Regions from separate parts of the Homo sapiens genome. Here regions 2 and 3 are each linked to region 1. Evidence: fine-mapped expression QTL. A gene starts in region 1. Each other region holds a variant in brackets. All regions are shown on one strand. Distances are from middle to middle.

Region 1 (9,911 bases):
CTGAGCAACTGAGACTCTGAAATACTCTAACATTTGCGCTTCCAGAAGGATCTGAATCATATTCACAAAACAGTGTTGCCAGTCCATGCAACACAGTGGGTTGGCTTGACTAGAAGGCCCCCAGGTACTTCTCAGTTTTAATTTTTTCTTGAGATGGGGTCTCACTCTGTTGCCCAAGCTGATCTTAACTTTGGGCTCAAATGATCTGTTCACCTCAGCTTCCCAAAGCCCTGCGATTACAGGCATGAGCCGCTGCGCCCAACCCCCAGGTACTTCAAAATAATTTATTCTGAAAGAAGTTTTTATTTTTCTGATGTGCTAAAAAGATATTTGTTAATGAAGGCTCTTCTAGCTGGATAAGCTTTGAAGCCTAGAATGTAACTCACGCAGGCACAAGACCTGGTCTTTGCTGAAAATTACCCAAAAAAGGAAAAAGTATCAGCCGGGTGCAGTGGCTCACACCTCTAGTCCCAACTACTCCGGAGGCTGAGCTGGGAGGATCTCTTGAGCCCAGGAGTTCGAGGCTGCAGTGAGCTGTGAATACTCGGTGATAGAGTGAGACCTTGTCTCAAAAAAAGAAAGAAAGAAAGAAAGAAAGAAAGAAAGAAAGAAAGAAAGAAAGAGGAGGTCTGGTGCAGTGGCTCACACCTGTAATCCCAGTACTTTGGGAGGCTGAGGCGGGTGGATCAGAGTCAGGAGTTTGAGACCAGCCTGGCCAACATAGTGAAACCCCATCTCTACTAAAAATACAAAAAAAATTAGCTGGGCGTGGTGGCGGGTGCCTGTAGTCCCAGCTACTCAGGAGGCTGAGGCAGGAGAATTGCTTGAACCCAGGAGGTGGAGGTTGCAGTGAGCAGAGACGGCGCCATTGCACTCCAGCCTGTGTGACAGAGCAAGACTCCGTCAAAGAAAGAAAGAAAGAAAAAAAGAAAGAAAGAAAGAGGAAGGAAGGAGCAAAGGAAGTAGCAAGACTCTGCATGTGAGGGAGGCAGAAAGGAGTCCCACAGCCTTCTTGTCCTCAGCCTTCTTGTCCCCACAGGGCCACACCAAGGCTAGGAGTCCAGGGCCAGGGAGGGAGGTTGGGACGTCAGGGACAGGGAGGTGGATGGAGTCGGGCCAGCCCAGGCCTGTGGCCCTTGCCGTGCAGGGCCTTGCTCCTGCAGCCATGGGACCCCGGGCCCTGAGTCGGGGGTGCAGGCCCTGAGGGGCTGAGCACAGCAGTGCTGGGTGAGGAGGCAGAAGAAGCCCCGTCGGGGCCTGAGCGAGGGGCAGAGCTAGGGCCAGGACAGCCAGGCTCAGCTCAGCACCCACTCAGGTGCCACGAGGGCCCAGGGTAGAGAAGAAAGGCCGGGGGCAGGGCCGAGTGGGGCCAAGGCTGGGCGGGGGTGGGCACTTGCCCATATCCGGCAGCCGCTGAGGCTGAAGGGGCACAGCTCACAGCTCCACTGGGACAAGGGCGGCTCCCATGGTGAGGATAAAGGCCACGGAGAAGCTTCCAGAGAGGGCAGCAGAGTGGGACGGGTCACCTGCCCCAAAGGGCTTTGTTCTAAGGGAGCAGAGACCCAGGACAGCACGGGGCGGGGCATCCACTTTGTTTTTAAGACATTTCGGGGGCGCTGCTGGGGACAGTCACCAACAGTGTCCCTAGAGAAAGGGCAGGGGCCAGAGACCCAGCAGGCATGTGGAAGCGAGAGGAGGGGAGAGCTCGGGACCAGCTGAAGCAGGAGGGGCGTGGGGTCCGCGGCTTGCGGGCCAGAGGGGCATGGGGTCCGCGGCTTGCGGGCCAGAGGGGCATGGGGTGCGCGGCTTGCGGGCCAGAGGGGCATGGGGTCCATGGCTTGCGGGCCAGAGCCCAGGGGTCAGCCAGCATGGTGCTCTAGCTGCCGGGACGCTGGGGAGGCAGTGGCCGGGGTTCACAGAGGACCAGGGGACAGCGGTTGTCTGTCCTCCCTTGCTCTGAGGATCAGTGGGTGCCTCCACCGGCCTTGGCACTGTGTAAGTTTCTAAAAACACAACATGAAGCTTTGGGAGGATGTGGGGCACAGGTCCCAGTCCCCTGAGGGCAGATGCTGCCAGCTCTGGCAGGACGCAGCCGCAGGCTCAGAATCAACACGCAATTCCCTGCACAGGCGTCTGCAGAGCAAGGTTCAGGCCTGCTTCATCAGTAATTCTCAAAGGTGATGAACTCTACGTGAAACTAAAGTCATATGAAGAGTTTTTTGTTTTTTTCTTGTTGTTGTTGTTTTGAGACGAAGTTTCACTCTCATTGCCCAGGCTGGAGTGCAGTGGCACAATCTGGGCTCACTGCAACCTCCGCCTCCCAGGTTCAAGCGATTCTCCTGCCTCAGCCTCCTGAGTAGCTGGGAGTACAGGCACCCACCACCGCGCCCAGCTAATTTTTGTATTTTTAGTAGAGATGGGGTTTGTCCATGTTGGTCAGACTGGTCTCAAACACCTGACCTCAGGTGATCCACCCACCTCCACCCCTCAAAGTGCTGGCATGACAGCCATGAGCCACTGTGCCCGGCCCATATGAAGAGGTTTGAATGAGGTACAGGTGACAGAAACCTGCACATCTCAGAACAAAGAAACCAGAGCACGTGCCGGCGAGCTTGGGCACTGGCAGAGGCGTGGAGGAAGCTGCTTACAGAGCCTGCAGCACAGCGCAAGTAATCCATCTCAGCCGGGAACACGTTCCCCAGGTACAGCGAAAACCCCGAGGTCACCAGGAGGCAGCTCTGCAAGACAGCGACAGAATCCCAGGTTACAACGCGCCCCGTCCCCAGGCTGGACCCTGACCCTTCAACTTCTGCTTCACTGTCTGTGTATTGGTGACTCACCCACGTCCCCCAGCATCAACCACACCCGCACCTGGGACCCGCCCATCCTGGACTCCTCCTGTAGGACAGACGCAGCCCCGCCGCAGCCCAGGACATGGACCAGCCTCCCCCAGCCATGTCGGAGCATGGACCCCCCACGCTGTTATCTGGAGGAGAGAAGAAAGGGGATCTGCCAATATTTAGAGCAAGGAATGGCACCTCTCCCCACAAAATACTCCTGCCCCAACATGTTGTGCGTGCAGTCTTCCAGATCCCACACCCAGGTCCAGACACGAGACTGGAAAACAACTGCCCATCCCCCTCCGTCTGCAGAACCTAATTTCCAGATCTGGAAGAAGATCCCTCCAGGCAGGGGCTCCAGGCCCAGGGGCTCCTGAGCAGGGAAGACCCTAGCAGGAGGCAGGGAGGGTGCTCTCTCTCACGCACAGCACTGCAGGGGTGCGGTGGGGAGGGGGCTCTCTCTCACGCACAGCACCCCCGGGGTGAGTCTGAGGGGAGTCAGTATCAAAGGTCACTGGGACCCAGGGTCCTGGCAGAGGAAGCGAGGTCTGGGGCAGAGGGGATCTGGCCTGGGCGGGGGAGGGGCTGCGACCAAGTCCAGGGCACCAGGTGGAGGAGGGCAGAGCCCGGAGATGGCCACCACCACCCGGGAGCCGCCTCTGTCCCCAGCTCCGAGGCAGACGCCTGTCTTGGTGGGGCATGCTCAGGCCACGGGAGGTGGGCAGGACCACTGTGGGTGCTGCAGGGGCTGCCGGCGGAGGCCAGGGCACAGGGAGGGGAGAAATCACAGCCTGGATCTCATTCTCAGCCCAAGCTACACGGAACCGGGGGTCCCTGCATAGAGGCCTGTCCTGCAGCATGGCTCTGAGCAGCTGCACACACTCAGGCCCAAGTGGCTCCTCCAATCATCTCTGTGCCCACGACTGTGCAGGGAATGGCCAGGACCCCAGGGAAATCCCTCGGACATCTGGCGCTGCCCGTCCACCCCAGACCTGTTCCTTTGTTCCCCAGCTCCCTCCCAGCCGGCCCCTGAGGCCCTCCCTAGGAGGAGGAGGTCCCTGAGGTTCTCTCTGTGAGGGCCGACCTGAAGGCCTGAGACGCCTCCTCCCACCTTTGCAGGTGACCCCTCAGAGGACCCTGGGCCCCCAGAGCCGAGGGTCATGGAGACTCCTGGGGCCCATTCATGGCCCTGGGACTGTCCCTACCCTGGTGGGACTAAGCCACAACCTGGAGCAGCTCAAGGCTGGCACAACAGACACCCATAAATTAATAAAAATAATTGTGAAAACACAAGCAAAACAAGCTCGTCGGCATCCAAGAGTTCTGCAGCAGCAGGGTTAGTCTGAGAGTTGCTCTCTCTGTCCCACCTGGGGCTCCAGGGCGCTGCAGTCCGTCACCAGAGGGACCAGATGCTCGTGGCCCTCCAAGGGCTTAGTGTGGAGCTACTCACCCCCATCAGCACAGAGAAGACCCACGTCTTGTGGCTGAAGCAGGGGGGCAGTCTCTTCGACAGCTGCAGGTCGCTCGGCTTCGCGTCTGGGGCATAGCTGGCGGGGTCTTGCCGGCCCCGCTCCAGCGTGGGCATCCGGTCATAGGCCAGCTCCTCTCTGAATGGCTCCTGGGTCATGGCACTTGGGGACACCACAGCTGTGCTGAATGTACAGCCACGTGTCACCAGTTCTTTATCTGGAATAAAATTATCATCGGCTTTGGCCACTCTGAGGAAACTTCAATAAGTTGTTTCCAAGAAATATTTTTTAACAAAAGAAATATTGTTCATACTGAAGTGCTCTAAATTTGAAGAAGAAAATGAGCACTTGAATCTAAAAGTGAAAAAGAAATAACTTTCCTAGAAAAACGGACCTGAATAGTCTGGGTTCAGGGTGAGATTCTACACTTTAAATGCCTCATTGATCCATCTGGGCCCTCCAGGTGCAACACCTGACAACATCCATCGGCAACTTCGTCCATGAACACATCACGCCGGGGACTCAAGCACGTTAAACTGCTCCAATTGGTAGCTAAACGAGAGATTGCAAAACATGCCTCTACTCAACGGCTTAATGTCTGAGCACTTACCTCCCCCGCTGCTCTGCCGTTGGGAGCACTGGTCTCTGGGTGAGGGACTTCCAGCAAGAAGTATTCACAAATGAAACAAAAGCTCAGCAAACTTGAGCTGAAGGCAGGGGAAGGAGAGCTGCTTCCTGAATATCAATGAGGGGAGGAATCGGGTGGATCGTAGAAATGTTTCGTGTTGGTTGTGTAAACCACTGCCTCGGAGCTGTCAGAACCCAACTAGGAAAGGAAGGGGCCCTGCCTGTGCCACTCGCCACAGAGCTCGGGTCTCTCAGAAGAAAGAAGCGTCCCTAAGAATAGAATCCCACCAAGTACACATTCTGAGCAGGCTCTGTTTCTGAAACGTAACTGTTTACTCGAAGGTCTTCTACATCTTTCCAAGTAGCCTTTTTCCATCCCCCACAGCCACACGGTGGGAACCTCCTTCACACGGTCACATAAGCATTCACGCACTCGGCTTAGCTGTGTGGCCTTGGGCGGCTCCGGATTCGGCCCTGTGGTTTGCGTGGGCAGCCCGGATGGCTGGTGGGCCCGGTCCTGCTGCCCCCTTTATCTCTGCTCACCAAGCAGAGAAAAACCACAGTAATGTGTGTCGCCCAGAGACACTGGCACCCTGACAACTACAGCAACGGGTTCTTTGTGCACATTGTAAAAAGGCTCAAACTAAAGTTTCTGAAAAACCAGCTCCTTAAACCATGAACCCACATTAAAACTTGAGCAAAGTCATCAGGTTCCAGACCATGGGATGTTCTGTTGTCTTCGTTTCAATCAAGCAAGAAGCTTTTAGTAAGCTTTTATTAGCTTTTAGTAAGTTTTTATTAGCTTTTAGTAAGATTACACATACAAGCATCCCTGTCCCAGTGAAAATGCCCACTAAATCACCTCGATCAAAATGCGTAAGTGTCAAGTACGCATAAATGCAGCTCAAAACACTTTGCTCAACCTCACCCCCACAGGAAACAGCAGTGATAAATTTTTAGCAATAAACGAAAGTTTAAGCTATACTAGTATTTTAGGGTTAGTTAATTTTGTGCCAGCCACCACAGCCAATGTTCTGTTGTCTTCATTTCAATCAAGCAAGGATGAGAAATAATTTTCAAAAACTATAATCTGTGAAGTCAAGAACTCATTTTAATGGATTGAGAAACCTCCCAAACTTCACTATCTTTTAAAGCGATAAACGGGATTAGTGGGAGTGGGTCCAACTGGATCGAATCCTCCTGTGTTTCTTTTTGTTTGGAAAAAAATGTTAATCGGATTTCAACATTTTTTTCTTTCAAAAGTTGCTCTCCACTTAGAAATACAAACAAGCTGCCCTGAACCAGAGGTTGCAGAGCAAATCCCTCAGCTTCCCAGATCATAAGTCATCACTTGAGAAATGCTCCCAAGTTTCTGTTGGCAACACTAGTTTCTAGAACAGGCCCTGTTCTTTCATACAATCTTCCAACAAATTCTTGCTCCTAAAATGCCCTTCATCCCTCTGCCTGCTGATGTCCCATCATCATTCAACATTCAACAAACATTTATGGGGTGGACAAAGAAGTGACGTCCTTCCTATAGGCTGTTTACATTCATTGGGGGCACAGGAGTGCACAGGATAAACAAATTAGTGTGTTATACAGTGATATGGTTTGGCTGTGTCCCCACTCAAATCTCATCTTGAATTGTAATTCCCATAATTCCTACATGTCGTGGAAGGGGCCCGGTGGGAGGTAATTGAATCATGGGGGTGGTTACCCCCATGCTGCTGTTCTCCTGACAATGAGTGAGGTCTTATGAGATCTGATGGTCTTTTATAAGGGGCTTTCCCCGCTTTTGCTCAAGACTTCTCCTTCCTGCCACCTTGTGAAGAAGGACATGTTTGCTTCCCCTTCCACCATGATTGTAAGTTTCCTGAGGCCTCCTCAGCCCTGTGGAACTGTGAGTCAATTAAAGCTCTTTCCTTTATAAGGACTTGACTCTAAAATTACCCAGTCTTGGGTATGTCCTTATAGCAGCGTGAGAACAGACTAATGCATCCAGTGACACACATGATTTCCTCTATGAGGGAAAAGAAGTCAGGGGAGAGAAATGAGGGGCTGCTGTTTGCAGGGGCCAGGGCAGGCCTCAGTGAGAAGGAGGCAGGGAGGGGAGGCTGGCAGAGTTGAAGCAAAGGCCACAGGTTGGGGAAGGCAGGCGAGGACCATGCAAGGGGGATACAGGTAGGACAGCCAGGTGCCAGCACCTGTGGGTATGGAGACGACTCTGCTTCAACTCTGAGACAGACCTGCTGGAGGGGTCTGGGCAGAGCAGCATCCGGTCACTCACTGGGTGGAGAGCAGGCTGGGGGGTGGGAGGAGCAGGTGCTGCCTGGCATTGAGGTGGCAGTGGGCAAGTGGTGAGGAGGGACTGGGCTCTGAACAGGGTTTGAAGAGCGGACGCAATCTGCTGTCAGGGCGACGTTGCTGAGTTCTGTCTGAGCAGTGAGGACAGAGATGAGAAGACCAGGGTGGAGCAGGTGTGGAGCGAGGATCTGGAGTTCCATTCTGGACATGATGAGGCCGAGATGTCTGTGGGCATCTGCCGGGTCTACTGAGTCCAGAATCCCAGGGAGTGGCCCGAGCTGGGGAGCTGAGGGGCAGCCCTGCAGGCACAGCACCCGCTGCGAGCTGCCCTGGCAGGGAGCCCATGAGCCACCAGCCCTCATGCAGCTCGCTCTTGTTTCCAAGCTAATCTCCCACCAACCAGTAGGTCCCTGGGACCCTGCTGGCTCCTGTATGTGTTCCAGCACCCAGCCCAAGACACAGGCTTAGCGGGGATTTGAAATGCTAGGGAGTGCGCCACTCTCTCCCTTCCCACAGCAAGAACTATCAGTACACTCTGCATCCATGGACAGGCAAGGTCCAGGCTGTCATCAGACTGACAGATCTGACCTAGGAAAATAAAGCTATGTCAATCAAAAATAAGTCGGGGCTGGGCGCAGTGGCTCACACCTGTAATCCCAGCACTCGGGAGGCCAAGGCGGGTGGATCACCTGCGGGTCAGAAGTTCGAGACCAGCCTGACCAACATGGTAAAACCTTGTCGCTACTAAAAATACAAAAAAAAAAAAAAAAAAAAAAAAAAAAAAAAGCCAGCGTGGTGGCGCACGCCTGTAATCCCAGCTGCTCTGGAGGCTGAGGCAGGAGAATCACTTGAACCCGGGAGGTGGAGGCTACAGTGAGCTAAGATCATGCCACTGCATTCCAGCCTGGGCGACGGAGCAGGACTCCATCTCAAAAAAAAAAAAAAAGAAATAATAAAAAACAGAAACCACTGGAATAGTAAAGATATATATACGTATTTTGTTTTTGTTTTTGTTTTGAGGCAGAGTCTTGCTCTGTCTCCCAGGCTGGAGTGTAGTGGTGTGATCTCAGCTCACTGCAACCTCCACCTCCTGGGTTCAAGTGATTCTTCTGCTTCAGCCTCCCAAGTAGTTGGGATTACAGGCATGCGCCACCATGCCTGGCTAATTTTTTTTGTATTTTTTTGTAGAGACAGGATTTTGGCAGGTTGACCAGGCTGGTCTCGAACTCCTGACCTCAAGTGATCTGCTCACCTTGGCCTCGCAAAGTGTAAAGATATTTTTAAAATAGAGAAAAATCAATGAAATCAAGGGATGATTTTTTTTAAAAACTCAATAAAATTGATAAATATAGACTGATCAAGGAAAATGAGAGGGATGAGATAAATTACCTATGTCAAGAATGAAAGATGGCTCATCATTATGGACCATACAGACGTTAAAAGGATAATAAGGAAATATGCTGAACAACTTTATGCCAATAATCTGACATCTAATAATTGGATGAAATGGACAAATTCCTTAAAAGAATTACCAAAGTTTATTCAATATTACCTTGATAACTTGAATAGCCCTCTAGCTGATGCAGAAGTGAATTTCTCATTAAAAACCTTCCCACAAAGAAATCTCGAAGCCCAAATGGGTTCCCCAGCGAATACTACCACAATTTTTAGGGAATAAGTTACCCCATCCTACTCCCAGGTCACTGCAGGCCCGGCTTAAACCGACCCCAAACCAGACAGACACAGAAAACGGGAGGTCGGCCACAGAGCAATCTGCTTCACCAGCACCGTCCCCAACCTTGGACAAAGCGTTACCAAGCTGAGTCAGGCAATACACCAAAAGGATAACGAATCGTGACCAAGTGAGTTTTCCAAGGAGAGCCAAACAATGTAATTCCCTATGGGCTGAAATAAAAAGCTACAGGATCATTTGAATACATGCAGAAAAGCGTTGCAGAAAATTTCACACCCACTCATAAGAACTCTTGGAAAAACAGGAATAGAGGGAACTTCCTCAACTTGATAAAAAACACCAACAAAAAACGACTCCTAACATCACTCTGGGTGGTGAAAGCGCACTTTTCCCTAATGTGTGGGCGGCAAGAAGGCGGACCCGCTCGAAGCTCCGCCCACCCACGCGAGGCCCCGCCCGCCCGCTCGAAGCCCCGCCCACCCGGCGGTCACACCGCCTTGCGCGCTCGGCATGACGTCACTCCCACCAGGCACCTCGCCTTGTCAGGAGCTGCCAGGCGCCAACCGCCGACCTCTGACCGCTACGGGTCCCGGCTCGCGCAACGACCCCAAGGCGCATGCCCAGGCGCGGCGACCCCATTGGTGGCGGGCGGCGGGAGCGGCGCGGGCGCGTGCGGGCGGCGGCAGCGGCGGTGACGGCAGCCTAGGCCGGGCGAGGGCCATGCTGAGCCTCGCAGCCAAGCTGGTGGCCTTCTTCTGGAGGACGGCGGACACCCCTAGGGAGGAAGCCGGGCAGCTGGAGCCCGAGCTCGCGGAAGGTGGCTCGCGGGAGGCGGCTGGGAGGCGGGTCCCGGGCCCTCGCGTGTCGGCCACGAGGGAGCCGCGCCCATAGGTCTTTGAGTGCAGTGCGGGCCGGCAGGCAACGCTGGGCCCGGCCTTTCCTCATCTCCGCTGGCGGGGATCCCCGTTCGCCTCAGGA
Region 2 (9,911 bases), 650 kb after region 1:
CCTCGTACTCGGTGAGGCCCAGTGGCCGCTACCCCGTGGCGAGACGCGCCCCGAGCCCGGTGAAGCCCGCGTCGCTGGAGCGGGTGGAGGGGCTGGGGGCGGGCGCGGGGGGCGCAGGGCGGCCCTTCGGCCTCACGCCCCCCACCATCCTCAAGTCGTCCAGCCTCTCCATCCCGCACGAGCCCAAGGAGGTGCGCTTCGTGGTGCGCAGCGTGAGCGCGCGCAGTCGCTCCCCCTCGCCGTCGCCGCTGCCCTCGCCCGCGTCCGGCCCCGGCCCCGGCGCCCCCGGCCCACGCCGACCCTTCCAGCAGAAGCCGCTGCAGCTCTGGAGCAAGTTCGACGTGGGCGACTGGCTGGAGAGCATCCACCTAGGCGAGCACCGCGACCGCTTCGAGGACCATGAGATAGAAGGCGCGCACCTACCCGCGCTTACCAAGGACGACTTCGTGGAGCTGGGCGTCACGCGCGTGGGCCACCGCATGAACATCGAGCGCGCGCTCAGGCAGCTGGACGGCAGCTGACGCCCCACCCCCACTCCCGCCCCGGCCGTGCCCTGCCGGCAGGGCCCCCCACCCCCACCCCGGGCCGCGGGCTCGGCCTGCCCCTTACGACGGCGCCCGGGCCAGGAATGTTGCATGAATCGTCCTGTTTGCTGTTGCTCGGAGACTCGCCCTGTACATTGCTTAGTGCCCTCACCGGCCGCCCAGCCCACCCAGCGCACAGTCAGGAAGGGCGTGGACCAGGGAGGCTGGGGCGGGAGGTGCCGGGGGTGGGGTGCCCTAGCGTGACCACCTCCTTCGCAGCTCCTGGTGGCCATTCTCCCAGAGGGGGAACCTAGTCCAGCATGCGAGGTCAGGACCCGCCTTGGTGACTCGGGGGGAGGGGGGAGACATTGGGATTCTCGATGGGGGCCAAGGAGCCCCCCTGTTTTGCATATTTTAATCCACTCTATATTTGGAACGAGAAAAGGAACAAATATCTCTGTCCGTAATAGTTTCCTCTCCCCTCCCTTCTACTTCCACTGGTCCCACTGCAGCTGCCCAGTCTTCCATCTCCGGCCCCTCACTGCCACTGCCACCCCACAACGGGGCAGGGGACGCTCCAGCTGGTCTGGGGTTGGCCAGGGCCCTAGTGGCCCGCCCTGGGGCCCCAGCTCGGCCCCTCGCCTCGCTGAGCTCTAGTGTGCCCCACCGACCCTTCAGGTGCTGCTCGTGGTGGGAGGGGCGGCAGGCCGCGGGTCCTGCTGTGCACCCGCGGGACCAGCCGGCCTGGGAGACCATCGGCCGGGGGGGATGAGGGCAGGGCCCTGCCGCTCCACCGCAGCCATCTTCCTCACAGGGTCTCTCCCCAAGGAGGGGGCTAGCTTGGTCCCCATGCTCTTGGGCAACTACAGCAGAGAAGCCTCCCTGCCTTGGACCCCAAAGTCTCCTGTCCTGCCCTTTATGTGTGTGGGTGAAACTGGGTGCGTCTGAGCACGTGGGAGCCGTGTGTGTGCCTGATTACTGAGTGGCCACCAGGGGCCGCTCTGGACTAGCGCGGGGCCGTGGAGGCGTGCACCGTGTGCATGCGTGGGGTGTACCTGTGAGAGCACCCTGTCTCCTCTTCCAAAGAAAGTCAGAGGCCATCCTGCACCCTGGGTCCAGCTGTTTGCCCAGCCTGTCCTTCCAGAGCCTCACCCAGCCTGAGCGGGGTTCCCTGGTGAATCCCTGCTGCTTGGGGAGGCCCCAAGGGCCCCTTGGAGGCAGCGCCCCCACCTTGGGCTTCTGAGGGCATCATAGGGGGACCCCTAGAGTCAGTTCACCACAGGCCCTGGGGAGAGTCAAAGACCCCCGAGGGTGCCCAGCCCCCCACACTGTGACTCCTCACACTCAGCGATGACCTGTGGGGTGGGGGGCCCTGGGACGTTTTTAAACCTAGGGTTTGGAGTCTGGACTAAGCTCCATCCACGTCACTCACAAGTTTCTGTTTATATTTCTAGCTTTTTTTAATAAAATAAAAAAAAAAAGAAAACAGAAGTTTTCACAACCCAGGGGCCTGGCACGCCGGTCTGTGCCTGCCCGCCCCGCCCTGGCCCACCGGCCCCACTCCCTGGGCACAGAGTCACACCCACTCATCCTTCCGCCAACAGTCCAGGTCACACAGCAGCAGTCACTGTAACAGACTGCCACATACACACTCGGTCTCACACTCACCTGTGGGTTTTGGTTCCGTTCAATTTGGGTTTTTAACTTTACAGGGTCAGTTCCGCTTCACCTCCTTTTGTATGGAGTTCCATCCGGGGGGTTTCACCCCCTGCTCCAGTCCTGAGGCCTCCTGACCCTGACGTTGTGATACGCCCCACAGAGATCTATGTTTCTTATATTATTATTATTGATAATAATTATTATAATATTATTATGTAATAAATTTATAAGAAATGAAGCCATGGCTCAGTTGCCTGCTTGAGGGGATATTTGTGTCTGTCCCTCATACCGGCCACACAAACCTCCTCAGCCTGGACCACATGCACGGGTGACTCCTAGATCCCTATCTTTGACCTCCATGCCTAGGCACCTGGCATCTTCCAGCATCTTCTCCGAGTCTGCTGGAACTCAGCCCATGCCTTCTGCACCGAAAGCTTTTCTCTGTTCACCAACCCACTGAGTAGCACCTCCTAAGCTGGAGGCCACTTGTCCTCCATGACCCCTGCCAGGTTTTAAGCCTAGGGTTTAAGACTTGCTCCCGCCAGCGTCCGGTTGCTTTTAAATTCTGCTGCTCCTGTCTTGGAACCCGCTCGCATCTCTCGCAACTGTCCTACCCCACGGCTGCAGACCAGATTTAGCCCTCACTCCTTCCCTGCTGATTCACTGGTTTTCTGTTTCCATTTCTGCCCTCTGCTGACAAACACCAGCCTGTCTGTAAATGCAGCTGATGGATGGACCCCGTGAGCCAGTCCGGCCCAGCCAGTGCTGCCGTGGCCCTGCCAGCATCCCCTGCTCCCTCCCCATGCACACATGCTGCTCGCCAGTCTCCCCCCACCTCCTGCAATCCCTGAGCCGCTATGACGCTTCAGGGCTCTGTCTCACACATGCCCTCTTCCTTCTGCCTGGATCACCCATCGTTTGCCTGCATCAAGCATACATAGCTTGGAGGCTGATCTCCGGATCCTGTCTTCCAGGACGTTTTCTCTGACCCGCCCTCCCTGGAGTCCCAGTTAGATGTTAGGCTCTGCGTCTGCACGGCCCTGGTGCTATCTCAAATTAGAGCAAGTTGGTGCTTCTCACCTTGGGTTGTCTGCCCAGTTGGATGTGAGGTTTCCTTTTTGCTCCCACCCTGAGCACCAGAGACAAGACATTGTCCTTCAGGAGCGCACAGGCAGTCATGTGAGCAGCCGATAATGTGGCAAAAAAGACACGTCCTGGGTGGCACCTGGTGGGGGTGGCCAGCCAACAGGAGGGACAGAGACCCCTCGCTGAGTGGAAGGAGGTGGTGAGCTATGTCTTGAAGGGCAAACAGTAAGGCAAGTGGGCAAAGGCAATCAAGAGGGAGCCGTGAGAAAGTAGAGGGCACAGGACCCAGCACTGAGGCCAGGGGCTGCAGAGATGTGACGTCCCCGGTGGGGAGGGTTGCTTACAGGAGGGGCAGTGGTTTCAGAGCCTGGACACACTGGGTTGAGGAGGCGCGTGAATATGACAGAATGACAATCGCATACCTTGGCTCTGTGGTTAACCTTAGCCAGGGGTGGGGCCGGTGGCACCGTGGAGAAGTGCCACTAGCCCCAGACTCTGAGTCCCCATGGAGGCCTAGGGCTCCATGTGCAGCCCAGGGAGACCCACCCTCCCGATTCCACACACTCAGGCCCAGAGCGAGTCAGGGGCCCCCTGCTCCCACACTCAGACCCTTGCAGGGCCCCCCTCCTTGACTTCCCGTGCAGCCCTTTCCTTATGATGGCCTCAGTTTCTAATCTGAAAATAAGATGAGGATTAGGAAATGTTGAAAATTTGAAATTGTGTGGCCTCTGCTCTTCCTGTGGGCTGGCACCCCCCAGCCACTCCCAAGACCTGTGGACAACTTTGGGGCAGGGCCAGGACATGGAGGCTGCTTTTGTTTTGTTTTGAGACAAGGTCTCACCCTGTCACCCAGGCTGGAGTGCAGGGGCATGATCGTGGCTCACTGTAGCCTCAACCTCCTGGAATTGAGCGATCCTCCTGCCTCAGCCTCCCAAGTAGCTGGGACTGCAAGCGTGGGCCATCACACCTGACTAATTTTTTTTTTATTTTTTATGAGATGGGGGCCTCATTTTGCTGCCCAGGCTGGTCTAGAACTCCACCCTCCTTAGCCTT[T/C]CAAAGTGCTTCGATGACAGGTGTGGGCCACCTTGCCCAGCCTGAGGCTGGTTTTCAAGCTGTCATCAACCATAGCCTCAAAGGGCCTTCGTCCTTCTCCATGGCGCCACCCAGACCCTCACCTGCTTGCTTAAACCACCCCCGAGGCACCTGCTTCCCCTGGGTGAAGACCTGAAACCTACCCCTTTTCGGCCCTCAAGGTTTCACTGCGTCAACCATTCTTACTCCCTCTGGGATCTTCTTGCCTTCCTGGCTGGCTGGACATTGAGGATGGTTGGATAAGGTTTCTGCTCCTCACGGAGGGTGGTGGGGACAGGAATGGAAAAGTAGGGGATTGGGGGCTGGAAGGGATTGGAGATCAGGGTGAGAAAAACTGGGGTGGGAGTTGGATTGCCCAGGTAAATAAGGCATGGGGACAGAAGTGGGCACGGCTGGCGAAGGCAGCGGGTGGTTGGGGTGAGCAGGAGCAGCGAGAATGGCTGGGATGAGCTGGAGGGGTGCCTGGGGGTCAGGGTGGAAGCAGAGAGCAGGGAGGAGTTTGAGGGGAGATGGGGAGCCCCCATCCTGCCCCCTGTGCTGAGCACTCTGCCTCAGCCTGAGCCATGCCCTCGGATGGGACCCCACCCTCTGGCCCCAGACCTGTCACCCATTTCTCCTTCGCTCTTAGAACAGCATGAAGAAGGTCAGACAAAGTCACTCTGAGTTGAGATGTTTGTTGCTTCCATTAGTTTAATGACAAAATTAAATGGGCCGGGCCAGGTACTTTTCCCGCAACCATCACTATAGCCACGGGCAGGCACGATGACTGGCAGCCCCTTCTAGAATCAGAAGTGGGTAAGCTTTGCGGAGTCAAACTGTAATGGTCTTCTAGAATCCAGACACTGACATTGGGTCTTCAGACTTTTTTATTGATACCTCCTAAATATTTGTAAAGAAATAGGTGCTATCCATTAAAAACACCCGAATAATATTTTCTTTAACAGTCAAAACTTTAATCTTCTTCTTTTTTTTTTTTGAGACAGGGTTTCACTCCCATTGCCCAAGCTTGAGTGCAATGGTGCGATCTCGGCTCACTGCAACTTCTGCCTTCTGGGTTCAAATGATTCTCCTGCCTCAGCTTTCTGAGTAGCTGGGATGCAGGTGCCACTGCACCTGGCTAATTTTTGTATTTTTTGTACAGACGGGGTTTTGCCGTGTTGCCCAGGCTGGTCTGGGGCTCCTGAGCTCAAGTGATCTGCCTGCCTCACCCTCTCAAAGTGCTGGGATTACAGGCATGAGCCTCTGCACTTGGGCCCACTTCTTCAATTCTTCTTGCCATTTCTTGAACCATATTTCCAAAGTCTTTTTCTGGTTATTTATGAGACACAACTTGATGCTCAGTTAAAATAAGTGAGGTCCGCTAACACTCAGTAGTGCAGCTGAAACCTATTCACATTCAAGTCACGAAATAGAACTTGTATGCCCTTCAGCTAGAGGAAGTGGGGCTACCTGACATAAAGGTAGAAAAATCCCCTGACACTCGGAGGAGATAAAGTGTCATGACTTAGATAGGGCATATAGGAGATAGGAGGTTTCATGACTCTCAGGTAAGGGAGATGAGACCTCCAGACAACCAGGAAGAGGTGAGAATACCTCCAGACCTCAGGGGGTTGAGATGAGAACTTTGGACACCCAGAATAGAGGAGATCTCATGATACTCTAGCAGAGGAGATGAAAGCTCCATGCCATTTAGACAGGGATATGAGACTATATTCAAGTAGAGGGTAGGACATGCCCTGGCACCCAGATGGGGGCAATGAGATCTCCCAACACTCTGGTATACCGGTGGAGACTTCAGAACATTCATATAGGTAAAATACAACCTCTTGACATTCAGCTGGAAGATGTAAGACCTCTTGATTTTCAGGTAGAGAAAGTGCGACAGGGTGACACTTGGGTGGTGGAGGTGAGAATTCTTAACCTGTAGGTGGAGGCGATGAGGGCCTCTGGCACTGAAGTGGAAAAACAGAGTTGTTATTTCTTTCAAAGAAGGAGGTGATCACTCCCTGATACTGGGTAAGATATACGAGACCTATTGAACATTCATTTGAGGATGTCATAAGTACGACATTCAGTTAGAGAAAATAGATAAATCAAGATCATCTGATAATCTGAAAACTCAACACTCAGGAATAGGAGATGAGATGTCCTGACACTCAGGTTGGAGGCATGGGACCTTCTGACACCCACTTAGATGATGTGCAACCTATTGACCCTCGGGCTGGTTGAGATCTTACATTCAGGTAGAAGAGGTAAGGCTGCCCTCATGCAGGTAAGAGTGTGACCTCCTGACACTTGCAGGCGATGGGAAATGTTTTAACATTCAGGTGTTTGCAATAAGCATTTGTCACACTCTGGTAGGTGAGATGCTAGTTCCTGATGATCAGATGGGAAAAATGATGCTTCATGATATTCAGGTAGCTGTATGAAAACTCTTGACATTCAAGTATAGGAGAAAACACCTTGCTCCACCTCAGTCACAGAAAGCCGATCTGGAGACATTCAGGATAATAGGAGACCTTGTGATATTCAGCAACGGACAGGAAGGTGGGCTTTGCAGTTGTAAATTAGGAAAATTCAAAATGACTCTTGGAAAAGTGTGTTGATAGCATTCACTTGGAAGAGGAAAAGAAAACTTCCCCAACAACAATTAAGGATCAATTAATCTGCTGACCCTGACTCCTCTGATCCACAAACATGTTGCACCGTCTCATCACTGAAGGGCTGAGCCGCTCCTCAGTCTGTGAGTCTGCAGTGGTCACAGCACGCATGAGAGGCAGACTCTGAACCTGCACAAAGCCAGAGCCTTGGGTGATGTGGGGACCTCGCAAGAGTTACTGGGAATGGAGATCCTGGCCTTGGGACAGAGGGAGTGGGGCTGCACAGGAGTCCCCCATCATCCTGGTGGTGGGGGAGCCTATGCAGGAAGTCAAGAAGTCTCTTCAGCACAAACCAGTTAAGGCGAGGGGCTCTTACCTGGCCTGACTGCTGGGGGTGGGGTGGGGGTCACCCCTGCTGATTGGCCAGGCAGCCACGGAGCTTTGTGAGGTCACTAGGCTTGCAGGCCAGGCAGTGCCAGGAGTATGGTTGAGATGCTACCAACTGCCATTCTGCTGGTCTTGGCAGTGTCCGTGGTTGCTAAAGATAACGCCACGTGTGAGTAAGTGTCGGGGCACCTTGGTGGGGGAAGGATCTTCTGAGGAGCAGGTACCACCCCGACTCCCTCTGTCCAGGGCTAGGGAAAAGGAGGCTGCATCCCTAACCTGGACCCCCCCTGCTCCCAGAATCAGCAGCCTGGAGCCCCCAGACCCTCAGCTTTCGTGGTTTCCTCCAGAGATGGACCCCTCAGCACCTCAGGCTCCTTGTGCCTCTCCCACTCCCCCAGGGACTGACCCCACTGTCTTGAAGACATGAAGTCCTGATTTTGGGAGCCCTTATCCCCCCACAGACAGCTGTCCCAACCCGTGGTTGCCCCCAACAGCCCCAGGATATCATCGCTTCACACCGCTTGCACCCCTACCCCCCAGTAGGCTCTCTCACTCCAAGGTACCCCGAAATACCAACACCTCCCAAGCTATATGTGGCCTCCCACCCGTGACACAGTTCCCAGAGCCTCCACCTCTAGACCTCCACTGCTCTCAGTGTGCCCCCTACACCTGTGGGCCACAGTATCTGCCCCTGGCTGCTATCCCTCCTCCCATCACTGTCAACGACCCCCTTCATCACCTGACTTCCCTGAGTCTCCCACCCAAGATTGGTTATAAGGACCTCAGGCCATTACACCCCTCTGTCCCCAGGCCCCGCATCCCCACCTCTACCCTCCTGTTCTGCCCAGGGACGGGCCATCCCTCAGGGCCCATGCAGCCTGTCCTGGCTTCCTATGGCCTCCTCTTTCTCCATCTGTGACTGCACCCACAAGACCTGAGAAGTCGTGGCCCCAGAACCATTTCCTAGAGCCTGCGGCTTCCTACATAGCGCAGGCTGCCCCTGCTTTCCCAGAACCCGGAAGCTCTTCCCCACTTTTCCCAACCCCATGTCCCTGCCTCCCCTCAGTTGTGGAGTTACAAGGACAGGCTGTGCTCATGCCAGGTTTGAACTGTGCTCTGGTCTCTCCCCAGTGGCCCCTGTGGGTTACGGTTCAGGCAAAACCCACAGGGTGGTGTCCGCATCGTCGGCGGGAAGGCTGCACAGCATGGGGCCTGGCCCTGGATGGTCAGCCTCCAGATCTTCACGTACAACAGCCACAGGTACCACACATGTGGAGGCAGCTTGCTGAATTCACGATGGGTGCTCACTGCTGCTCACTGCTTCGTCGGCAAAAAGTACGTGTAGGGATGCACTGAGGGAGGTCTTCAGAACGGCTCTTCTCAGAGAGGGGCGTTCCCCGGGGATGCTGTGCAGCGTCTCCCTGGGGCTCTGGGCCAAGTGGCTGCAAGACTCCGGGGGCTGGTCCAGACCTTTGCTAGGGGAAGGCCCTGAGGGTCGCTGTCACCAGGCTTTTGTCCAGCCGGTTGTGACCTGGCTTACCTTTGTGCCCACAGTAATGTGCATGACTGGAGACTGGTTTTCGGAGCAAAGGAAATTACATATGGGAACAATAAACCAGTAAAGGCGCCTCTGCAAGAGAGATATGTGGAGAAAATCATCATTCATGAAAAATACAACTCTGCGACAGAGGGAAATGACATTGCCCTCGTGGAGATCACCCCTCCCATTTCGTGTGGGCGCTTCATTGGGCCGGGCTGCCTGCCCCACTTTAAGGCAGGCCTCCCCAGAGGCTCCCAGAGCTGCTGGGTGGCCGGCTGGGGATATATAGAAGAGAAAGGTGAGTATGGGAGCGCCTCCAAGGGGGGACGCTGCTGGCCATTCTCCTGGTGGTCTTTGAGGTGCAGCGGTCACTTGTTGACACCCAGCCAGGCTGCTTTCATCCTCCTCACGGCGCTACACGTAGAGCCATCACTGTGGCCTTCCACAGTCCCCTGTGCCAGGTCACGTGATGGGTGACTCGTCTGGCTGTCTACGGGGGGGCTGACAGCAGGTGCAGGCAGAGCGCAGCGTTGCTTAGAATGGGGTTGAGGCTGTGTCTGTATTTGGCACCTGGGGCCCAAGCTGCTGGATCCTGGAAACAAGCAGCAACCCTGAAACAGCCTTTGGAGAAGAGCTCCAGATAAGGTTATGTGGCCGTATGACAGTGCCTTCCACTCTCTGGGCCTTGGTTTCCTCATCTGTAAATGGAGGGGCTGGATCAGATGGTCTCCAAGCTGACCATTTCCTAACACCTGTGATTCCAGGGCCCAGCCTTCCTGCTTCCAGGCTGTCTTTGTCACCATCAGCAGCCACCTCCGGTGCAGTCATAGCACCAAATCTACCCTCTCCATCTGAGTTACTTGACATTTGCTCTGTAGACTGGGAAGGGGACCGGTGGTTGGTGTGGCTTTCTGTGGGTCATAGGCATCCCTGTATTTCAGGCTTCCTGGAGTGTCCGGCAGGTACCTCTCCATTCAAGACGGGTGTAGCTGTCGCTCTAGAGCTCTGTCCATAACCAAGCTG
Region 3 (9,911 bases), 21 kb before region 1:
ACCAGTGACAGCAGCCTCTCCTCTCCCACGGTGGCGCTTGTTTGGGGCTGTGGCCAAAGTGTTTGCCCGGCCCCTGACTGTGTCCTTCCGGAGCTGCCGAGGACTGCAGAGAGGGCCTGGCTTGTCCCCTCTAGGAGCAGCTGGGAAGGTGTCTTGCCTGCATCCCCCTTCAATGGTTGAAAATAATGATTCCACTTGTCATGAACACCATGAAGGTATCTTGGCAGCCAGAGTCACTCCTGTTCCGCAGTGGGAAACCTGGGAGGGTCCTCAAACCCCCTGGCAGGGTCTGCAGGCCGCCCCATCCAGCTGCATCTCCCAGGCCTCCTGGTTCTTTGATCTTGATGGCCCCAGGCCACAGATGCATCTCCGGGCCTTTCCAGCAGCCCATGGGGGACCAGTCAATACACCCCACGGCGGTGAAGAGAAAACGTTCATGTCTTCTCAGATCAGAAGGAAAGAAACAAAACCATTGTGAAGGAAAACACCTGCTGGAAAGTAATTATCAAAGTAACAGCATTCCAGTTTCACAGTCGCCCCAACTCACTGTGGATTTACTGCCGTCAGCTGGGAGGACCCAGGCGCCCTCGGGACGAGGAGACGCAGGGAAACCCACTCCTGGCCATGGCACTACCCAAAGCCAGTGTTATTCTCACACCCAACTGTCCCTGCAGCCTGGCAGGTGGGCAGTGACCGCCTGGGCTGTACCCTAAGACCCCAAAACAGCGGAGATGGAGAAGACCGCTGCCCTGGGGCCTTCTCAGTGAGGATCAAGACAAAGTACTTGCTAGGAGGTAGAGGGCGCTGGGTGAACCTGTGAGAATTCCTGGGCTCTGACCTGATCTGTCCTGCATTTTGAGTAATGGGAGCAAACACAGGAGGGAGGGGCTCAGCTTCCCCCGGTCACTGGGGCCAGGGAGACGTGGTCCAGCCGGTTTACAAAGCCTTGGATGCAGCCCCACCCCCAAGAACACTGCCTGTCACAGCAGCGGCCACGTGGCACTCCAAGCTGGGCATGACAGTGCCCGGGACGTGGGCAGCGGCCATGTGGCACTCCAAGCTGGGCATGACAGTGCCCGGGACGTGGGCAGCGGCCACGTGGCACTCCAAGCTGGGCATGACAGCACCCAGGACGTGGGCCGGCCAGTGTGGCGGTGGATCCCTCTAGAATGACTGGGTCTAAGTAGGGAGACAGGGCAGGCGACCCGGCGTGGACTGGTGTGGATTTCACCTGGGAGAGCAGCGGCAGCCTGTGTCGCTTGCGCCCAGGCTCTGGAGGAGGGGCCCCTGCGGCTCCCGGGCCAGGACAGAGGCGCCCAGCCCTGCTCTCACTGTCCAGGAAGAGCCGCTGGGCAGCCTGAGCCTGGGGCAGGTGCACCTTGCAGGGAAGTGGGTAAGATCCCACTGGGCTGACTGAGTACCCGGGACAGACCCTAAGCGTGGAGGGAGGAAGCCCGGTCAGAGTGGGCAGGAGACGCAGGGACCCACAGTCTGGTCAGGTCCAGAGAGCCCACTCCAGCCCAAGCCATGAGAGAGGCAGGAAGAGGAGCTGGGGCCAGTTCAGGGGTGGGGCTCTCAAGAGGCCGAGCCGGGGGCCCTTCCTCGGCCTGGGAAGTTGCGGCCATGCTCCTGCTGTTACGACACGGGAGCCACTCGGAGCTGACTGATCTCACTGAGGCACAGACTAGCCAACATTGGCCTATTTTAAAATTAAACTACCCTAGGAAGTGAAAACCCCACCTGCAGCCTGGTTTGCCCTCACACAAGGGAAAAGAGGTGTTAGAAGCAGTAGCTCAGGGCGATTAGGGGTTGTGCGTTTCCATGCTTGGGGCCAGGCTGGGCGCTGCCACCCGGTTTCCGCGTCTGGGGGTCACTGGGCCATTTGCACCACGACGGCTCTCCAGGCTTTCTCCTTGTCGAACTCCTTCAGGGGGCTCCTGGCCACCTGCAACCGAGACAGGAAAGGTGTTACTTCACCAGGGCCACCTGTGCGGCGGGAAGGTGGACACGCCACTCGGCCACAGGCAGCGAGCAGCCAGCGTTCAGAAGTTTTCTTCGAATGTGAAGGAAGTGGGGAAACTAACCCCTGGGCCTCTGTGGAAAGAGATAAAAGCCTTCACTTCCTCAGTGTCCCAGAAACGCCTGCATCCCCCCCCGCACACACGGTTTCTACCGAGCCTGGGATGGAGCAGCCCTTCACTCGGCCCCTTGCCCTGGCTCTGGGGCGGGGAGCGGGGGGAGGCCGCCCAAGGTTGGGCATGTGCCTGACGGCTGAGGAAGAAAACACTTAAGGCAGAGGTAACCAGATGCCTCCAGGCAAAAGGGAGGACAGCGCCAGCCCCAGCTGTCCACCCTGAGCCCCAGTTGTCCACCCTGAGCCCCAGCTGTCCACCCTGAGCCCCAGTTGTCCACCCTGAGCCCCAGCCACCCACCCTGAGCCCCTGGGCCCCAGCCGTCCACCCTAAGCCCCAGCCATCCACCCTGAGCCCCAGCCGTCCACCCTGAGCCCCAGCCGCCCACCCTGAGCCCCAACCGCCCACCCTGAGCCCAAGCCACCCACCTTGAGCCCCAGCCGTCCATCCTGAGCCCCAGCCGCCCACCCTGAGCCCCAGCCGCCCACCCTGAGCCCCTGGGACCAGCAGTTCTGGGATCTGGGGAGAACACCTCATGCGTCTGACTCTGGGCCTTGCTGGTCACAACAGAAACCCAGGCGGGTCTCATTTCAGGCCCAGGGACTGCCGTCCTAGCAGGGAGACTGACCACAGCCAGGAAAAATGGCAGCAAAGCAACTGAGGAGGCAGGTTAAGGGAACAGCAGTAGGGAGGGTGGAGGGTGGGGGCGACGGGGTCAGCTGAGAAACGAGCCAAGGGCAAGAGAGCGTCCTCCGGGACTTAGCGGGCACTGGAGGCTCTGCACCAAGGTTCTGAGGCCGGTGGTGTGCTGAACACAGGAGGGCAGGGTGTGCAGGGCAAGAGCAGCGGCCGGTCCGCCCAGGATGGCCTAGAGGTGGGGCAGGACTCAGAGCCCCGCTGAGTGGCTGCCCAGGTGTTTGGGCATCAAGGTGACAGTCCTAGTGGTCACTGCACCTGAGGGTCAGCGGGCAGGTTTGCCCAGGGGAGCACCACCAGGACCCGTAGCTCGGTGGGGGGAAGACGCTGAGCCTCTGCCTTTCAGATGTGGGGGCAGCAAGACAGTAGGCAGGGCCCGGGGGAACATTGTTCAGGCAGTGACAGCCAGAAGTTGTTGACACCCCAGCTTTACGGAGCCCCATGTGCCAGGCTGGGTGGGCATTGCCTTCCCTGCAGAACCGCGTCCCCACCAGAGACCAGGGAAGGAAACTTCAGGACCTGTGGGAGTCCTCACAAAGCCCTCTTCTGTGTCTCTAAGAGCAAATCTGAAAGCATTAAGTCCAGAATATTTCCCAGGGATGGGTCTGGGTTTACCCAGGCTTTGTGTTTGTATTTTTAAAAGACATTTTACGGCTGGGCGCGGTGGCTCACGCCTGTAATTCCAGCACTTTGGGAGGCCAAGGCAGGCGGATCATGAGGTCAGGAGTTCGAGACCAGTCTAACCAACATAGTGAAACCCCATCTCTACTAAAAATAGAAAAATTAGCTGGGCTTGGTGGCGGGTGCCTGTAGTCCCAGCTACTCGGGAGGCTGAGGCAGGAGAATTGCTTGAACCCAGGAGGCGGAGGTTGTGGTGAGCCGTGATCGCGCCACTGCACTCCAGTCTGGGTGACAGACTGAGACTCCTTCTCAAAAAAAAAAAAAAAAAAGAAAAGAAAGACATTTTACTTCTTCGGGGTTTTTCTGGGGTGTTTTTAAAAATACAAAGTGGCACAATGAATCTTCGAGGGCCACGTCGTGTGGCCCTCGGAGGCCCTCACCAGGACAGGAGCCCCCACCGCAGGCCTCTCACCTCCCCAGCGGGTGCTCCTGTGGGCCACTCACCTCCCCAGCACCCCTGAAACCCACAGGCCTCTCACCTCCCTGGCTGAGCACCCCTGTGGGCCACTCACCTCCCCAGTGCCCCCACCCCACAGGCTTCTCACCTCCCTGGCTGGGCCCCCCATGGGCCACTCACCTCCCCAGCACCTGCACCGCAGGCCACTCACCTCCCCGGCTGGGCACCCCTGTGGGCTACTCACCTCCCCAGCACCCCCTCCCCCTGCAGGCCACTCACCTCCCCGGCTGGGCACCCCTGTGGGCCACTCACCTCCCCAGCTTCCCCCCACCCCACAGGCTTCTCACCTCCCTGGCTGGGCACCCCCGTGGGCCACTCACCTCCCCAGTGCCCCCTCCCCCTGCAGGCCACTCACCTCCCCAGCCAGGCGCTCCTGCGGGCCGTTCTGGGTGTCCCAGGATGCACCCTGCAGCCTTGCACTGACCTTGAAGCGCACGCACTGGATGGCGGTGCCCGTGTTGAGGCCGGCCTGCAGCAGGAGCACTAGCAGCAGCAGCAGCAGCAGCACATCGTAGGATGGCTGCAGGCGGAAGGAGGTGTGAGCAGAGTGGCCCAGCCGCCCTCCAGCCCAGGAGACCAAAGCTCCCTCGTGCCCACGGCCTTCACAAAGAGCAGGTGCCAGGGCTCGAGTCGGAGCCCCAGTAACCCAAACGCATTGCTATTTCAACAACCTGATGATAATCATTCTAGCTCAATTAATGAGGTCAATTCTGCTTTAAATTCCATCAGCTTGTGTTCAACATACAGGAATAAAAGTGACCGAGCCACTGCCAGGCCCCGTGGACAGTGCTGGCTGCTAGTGGTCAAGTCGCTCCACCCCTCCTGCTCCAACACGCGCAAGGCTCAGTCCCAGAGCCAGAGAGAATGTCCGCGGGAGGCAGAAGCGCTGAC[C/T]GTTCCGTGTCAGCAGGATCCTGAGCGGAGGAGACAGGGGGCAGCCGTCCTGGGGGGATGGGGTGCACAGACCCCCAACAGCTTCACCCCTGAGCACCAGCTGCTAGGAAGGAAGGGGCAGGAGGCAGCGCGGTGAGCTCGGCAGGGAAGAGGATGGAGGGAGCGGCCGAGGATGCAGGGGGCCAGAGAGTGACCACGGAGCACCCAAAACCCTCTGTGCCCATGGATAGCTTTCCCGTGTTGGCTCAAGAAAAACAAAGCAACTAAATGTTAACACACAAAAGAGCCAAACATCTATCCAATGTCACTGCTACAAAAAGTAAGAGAAGAAACAGAACGAACAGCTCTTCTCAAGTTAACATAAAACTTTTTTTTGCGACAGTCTCCCTCTGTCACCCAGGCTGGCGTGCAGTGGCGCGATCTCGGCTCGCTGCAACCTCTACATCCCAGGTTCAAGCGATTCTCCTGCCTCAACCTCGCCAGTAGCTGGGATTACAGGTACCCGCCACCACGCCCAGCTAATTTTCGTAGTTTTAGTAGAGACGGGGTTTCACCATGTTAGCCAGGCTGGTCTCCTAACCTCAGGTGATCTGCCTGCTTCGGCCTCCCAAACTGCTGGGATTACAGGCATGTGCCACTACGCCCGGCCTGGATTTTAAGTAATTATTAGAAAGTCTGGTACTTGTGTTCCCAGCTGGAGTTTACCCTGGAGGATGGTAAAGGCATGGGCCCCATGTGGTCTTTGCTCTTCGGTTGTTGAGACACCATTTATTGCAAAGCCTATGCTTTCCTCAGTCTCAAAAAAAAAAAATCCAGAGCCATTAAAGAAAATATTAATCAACTTAACTATTTAAAAAAATAGCTTTCACATAACAAAAATCACAACAAGCAGAACAAGAAATAGCCGCCAGGCTGAGACCACCATTTGTATCCTCCATCACAGATGGAGCTGGTCTCCCCCGGCACCAGGGTTAGCGGAAAATGGTCAGGAGACATGAGCAGAGTCCACTGAAAAAGCAATGCAGACGTCCTCATGCTTTGTAAGAGGTCCTCGTCCTCACCCACATTGAGACGGAGGTGCTCCCACCCGTGTCACCGAACTCCAGCGTGACACCCTCTGTGGGGGGCTGTGGAGAAGTGAGCACCTTCACGCCATTGGCAGGAGGGAAGGTGGACGGCCCCCATTGAGGAGGTCGCCGAGATTTATCAGCATGACAGCTGCACCTACCCTCTACCCAGCAGTCTCTCTCCTAGCTGGATATCCTAAAGATGCGCTGAGGATTCAAAAGGAAGATGCGTGCAGGTTGTTCACGGAGGAGTTATTTATAGTAGCAGACGGTTGGAAATAACTCAGTTTCCATCACTAGGGACTGGCTGGGTTGACCGGGCAGTCAGGAGCGATGAAGGAATTCAGAAGAGCTCTGATCCCCTTGGGTATCGAGAAAACACCAGGATAAATTATTAAGTTTAAAAAAACAAGCAAGGGGCTGGGCACGGTGGCAGAAGCCTCCTCATCCCAGCACTTTGGGAGGCCAAGGTGGGCGGATCGCTTGAGCCCAGGAGCTCATGACCAGCTCAGGCGACAGAGTGAGACCCTGTCTCTGAAAAATAAAATAAGTAAATACATAATTAAAAAGCGAGGTACATGGCTGGGCACAGTGGCTCACGTCTGTAATCCCAGCACTTCGGGAGGCCAAGGTGGGCGGATCGCTTCAGCCCAGGAGCTCATGACCAGCCCGGGCAACAGAGTGAGACCCTGTCTCTGAAAAATAAAATAAATAAATACATAACTAAAAAGCGAGGTATATGGCTGGGCACGGTGGCTCACGTCTGTAATCCTAGCACTTTGGGAGGCCGAGACAGGCAGATCACTTAAGGTCAGGAGTTCAAGACCAGCCTGGCCAACATAGTGAAACCCTGTCTCTGCTAAAAGTACAAAAATTAGCCGGGTGTGTTGGCATATGCCTGTAATCCCAGATGCTCCGGAGGCTGAGGCAGGAGAATCACTTGAACCCAGGAGGCAGAGGTTGCAGTGAGCCAAGACTGTGCCACTGCACTCCAGCCTGGGAGACAGAGTGAGACTCTATCTTAAAAAAAAAAAAATGGCAAGGTACAGAATAGTGATTCTAGTATACAAGCTATTTTGTAAGAAAGAAAAAAAAATTATCATCTGGTTGCCCATAAGAGGAGCAGGTCAGTCAGGCATGAGACCACAGCTTTTCTGAGCTCGTCTTTTATAGTTTGGCTTTTGAACCACATAAATATTTTATATATTCAAAAAATACCATTTTAAAAAGAAAAAAAGCACCAAGCCCTAAAATGGAATACAACCAGAGGCCATTAAACTTAATGGGGTATCGAACCCAGAGGATAACCCCACACAGAAAGGGGCCGACTTCGATGGCGTGTGGCCGTCCCCTGCTAGCAGAATGCATGCTGAAGATAAAAGGGAAGCCTCAGGCTCACTCAGGAGATGGCCCCTGGGTGGTAATATTGTCTCTTGTAATCGTGAACAATTATATGCATATTGTAAGACAACATGAAGTAGGAGATATATTAAATGTCACAGGAAACAAAATAATTGGAGTAGGAGTGGGTGAAGCAAACACAAGAGAAGTGAAGAAAAAACCCTGGGCCGGGTGTTGTAGCTCACTCCTGTAATCCCAGCACCTGTGGGAGGCCGAGGACGCTATCCCCCTTCAGACAGTGACTCCATGCCCCCATCAGACAGTGACTCCATCCCCCATCAGACAGTGACTCCATTACCCCATTAGACAGTGACTCCATCCCCCGTCAGACAGTGACTCCATCCCCCGTCAGACAGTGACTCCATCCCCCGTCAGGCAGTGACTCTATCCCCTGTCAGGCAGTGACTCCATCCCCCGTCAGGCAGTGACTCCATCCCCCCATCAGGCAGTGACTCTATCCCCTGTCAGGCAGTGACTCCATCCCCCTGTCAGGCAGTGACTCCATCCCCCCATCAGGCAGTGACTCCATCCCCCCGTCAGGCAGTGACTCCATCCCCCGTCAGGCAGTGACTCCATCCCCCATCAGTGACTCCATCCCCCATCAGACAGTGACTCCATCCCCCATCAGACAGTGACTCCATCCCCCATCAGGCAGTGACCCCATCCTCCATCAGACAGTGACTCCATCCATCCATCAGACAGTGACTCCATCCATCCATCAGACAGTGACTCCATCCCCCATCAGACAGTGACTCCATCCCCCATCAGACAGTGACTCCATCCCCCATCAGACAGTGACTCCATCCCCCCATCAGGCAGTGACTCCATTCCCCATCAGCACACGCATGTTGACCTGGAGCAAACAGCTTAATACAGGTCTTCTAATGATTTGGGTGCAAAACCACTTATACTGGAAAAAAAAAAACAAAAAAACAAAAAAACACTAGGTATCTAAGAAATACATCTAGCTACACGTGCCTGAGCCTCAGAAGTCGTGTTGGAGATAAGCTCCTACTGGGTCAGCTCAAAGTAACAGGACTTTGAATTCTCCTTAAATTCACCTGTTAAACTCAATGCAGTTCTGATGCAAATCCGAAAAGCATGTCTCATAAACCCAGGACAGATTCTAAAATGGGCTCAGGGACAGAGTGGGTCCCAGGTCCCTGTGAAGCAGGTGGTGGCCCCAGATACAGGGCGGAATCGAGGCCCCGAGGCCCTGGGGCCAGGCTGGCATTGGGGAGCACGGTCACCGCTGCCCAGGAACAGCGGAGGAGGTGCCTCCTGGAGCTGTCCCTGGAGCCAGCGCCCCCAGAGTCCCAGGCAAAGCCAGCAAGGGCCAGGCCAACACGCAGAGCACCACATGTCTGGGGGGCTCTGAAATAAAATACAACTCACTTTTATGGCTGGCGGGTAATCCTTAAACATCTCCACGATTCTCATGATGCTGAATGACAGATATCCAGAGGCTGTGAACAGCAGCGGAGACGTGAGGCTGCTTATGGCAATCAGGACCTCCACCTGGAAAAAAAGCGCGGGTTGCAGGACCACGGCCGGAGCCTGGGAGCCCAGGACAGCGGGCGTGGCCAGGGCTGGGGGGGCGGGCATGGCCGGGCACTCATGGGCATAGTCCCAAGCTGGTTCCCTGCATGACTCCTGCTGAAACCTCTGCCTTTTCTTTTTTCTTTTTCTTTTTTTTTTTTTTTTTTTTTGAGACAAGTCTCGCTGTGTCGCCAGGCTGGAATGCAGTGGCATGATCTTGGCTCACTGTAACCTCCGCCTCCCGGGTTCAAGTGATTCTCCTGCCTCAGCCTCCCGAGTAGCTGGGATTACAGGCGCCCGCCACCACACCCAGCTAATTTTTGTATTTTTAGTAGAGACCGTGTTTTGCCACGTTGGTCAGGCTGGTCTTGAACTCCTGACCTCAGGTGATCCACCCACCTCGGCCTCCCAAAGTGCTGTGATTACAGGCATGAGCCACCGCGCCCGGCCTGCCTTTCTTTCTTTTTTGAGAGGCAGCCTAGCTGTGTAGCCCAGGCAGGAGTGCGGTGGCACAATCTCTGATCACTGCAACCTCTGCCTCCTGGGTTCAAGCAATTCTCCCGCCTCGGCCTCTTGAGTAGCTGGGATTACAGACATGCGCCACCACACCTGGCTAATTGTTTTGTATTTTTAGTAGAGACAGGGTTTCACCATATTGTCAGGCTGGTCTTCAACTCCTGACCTTGTGATCCACCCACCTTGGCCTCCCAAAGTGCTGAGATTACAGGCATGAGCAGCCTGCCTTTTCATTCACAGCACAGTGCCACAAGTTTTGAAATACTTACCATCTAGGCAAGGTGGCTCACATCTGTAATCCAAGCACTTTGGGAGGCCGAGGAGGGCGGATCACCTGAGGTCACGAGTTCGAGACCAGCCTGGCCAACATGGTGAAACCCCCATCTCTACTAAAGATACAAAAACTAAGCGGGTGTGGTGGCGCATGCCTGTAGTCCCAGCTACTTGGGAGGCTGAGGCAGGAGAATCGCTTGAACCCGGGAGGCAGAGGTTACAATGAGCTGAGATCGTACCACTGCACTCCAGCCTGGG

Which allele goes with the higher level. Alleles are on the strand shown, and positions count from the first base shown. SD is a standard deviation of normalised expression in the study named. Not every link is listed here.
For the expression in CD4 T cells of the gene that starts at base 4,991 in region 1, C is the high allele of the variant in region 2 and T is the other (large effect, 0.88 SD a copy in BLUEPRINT).

Evidence for each region. PIP is the estimated chance that this variant, and not a neighbour inherited with it, causes the effect. A credible set is the group of variants that fine-mapping cannot tell apart.
Region 2: its variant is the best candidate, but not a certain one, in a credible set for the expression of MLC1 in CD4 T cells (BLUEPRINT, PIP 0.71).
Region 3: its variant is the best candidate, but not a certain one, in a credible set for the expression of MLC1 in whole blood (INTERVAL, PIP 0.71).

What each region holds. Positions count from the first base shown.
Region 1 is chr22:50,080,436-50,090,346 of GRCh38, forward strand. MLC1 (modulator of VRAC current 1) reads right to left here and starts at 4,991. Exons shown (of 12, transcript NM_015166.4): 1 at 4,920-4,991; 2 at 4,291-4,526; 3 at 2,649-2,738. The coding sequence starts at 4,467. It overlaps MOV10L1 (Mov10 like RNA helicase 1), which reads left to right and starts at 9,571. Exons shown (of 27, transcript NM_018995.3): 1 at 9,571-9,750. The coding sequence starts at 9,654. RefSeq lists a silencer at 2,625-2,919 and an enhancer at 4,639-5,263.
Region 2 is chr22:50,730,792-50,740,702 of GRCh38, forward strand. SHANK3 (SH3 and multiple ankyrin repeat domains 3) reads left to right here. Exons shown (of 25, transcript NM_001372044.2): 25 at 1-2,421. The coding sequence ends at 521. It overlaps ACR (acrosin), which reads left to right and starts at 7,413. Exons shown (of 5, transcript NM_001097.3): 1 at 7,413-7,521; 2 at 8,480-8,683; 3 at 8,903-9,186. The coding sequence starts at 7,445. It overlaps LOC105373100 (a long non-coding RNA gene), which reads right to left and starts at 7,378. Exons shown (of 2, transcript NR_134637.1): 1 at 6,599-7,378; 2 at 5,038-6,313. RefSeq lists an enhancer at 8,910-9,706. The variant T/C (reference allele first, on the strand shown) is at 4,323.
Region 3 is chr22:50,059,713-50,069,623 of GRCh38, forward strand. MLC1 (modulator of VRAC current 1) reads right to left here. Exons shown (of 12, transcript NM_015166.4): 10 at 8,721-8,843; 11 at 4,322-4,486; 12 at 1-1,945. The coding sequence ends at 1,871. Among named protein-coding and RNA genes, the nearest start is that of TTLL8, 6.4 kb to the left of the region's middle. The variant C/T (reference allele first, on the strand shown) is at 4,858.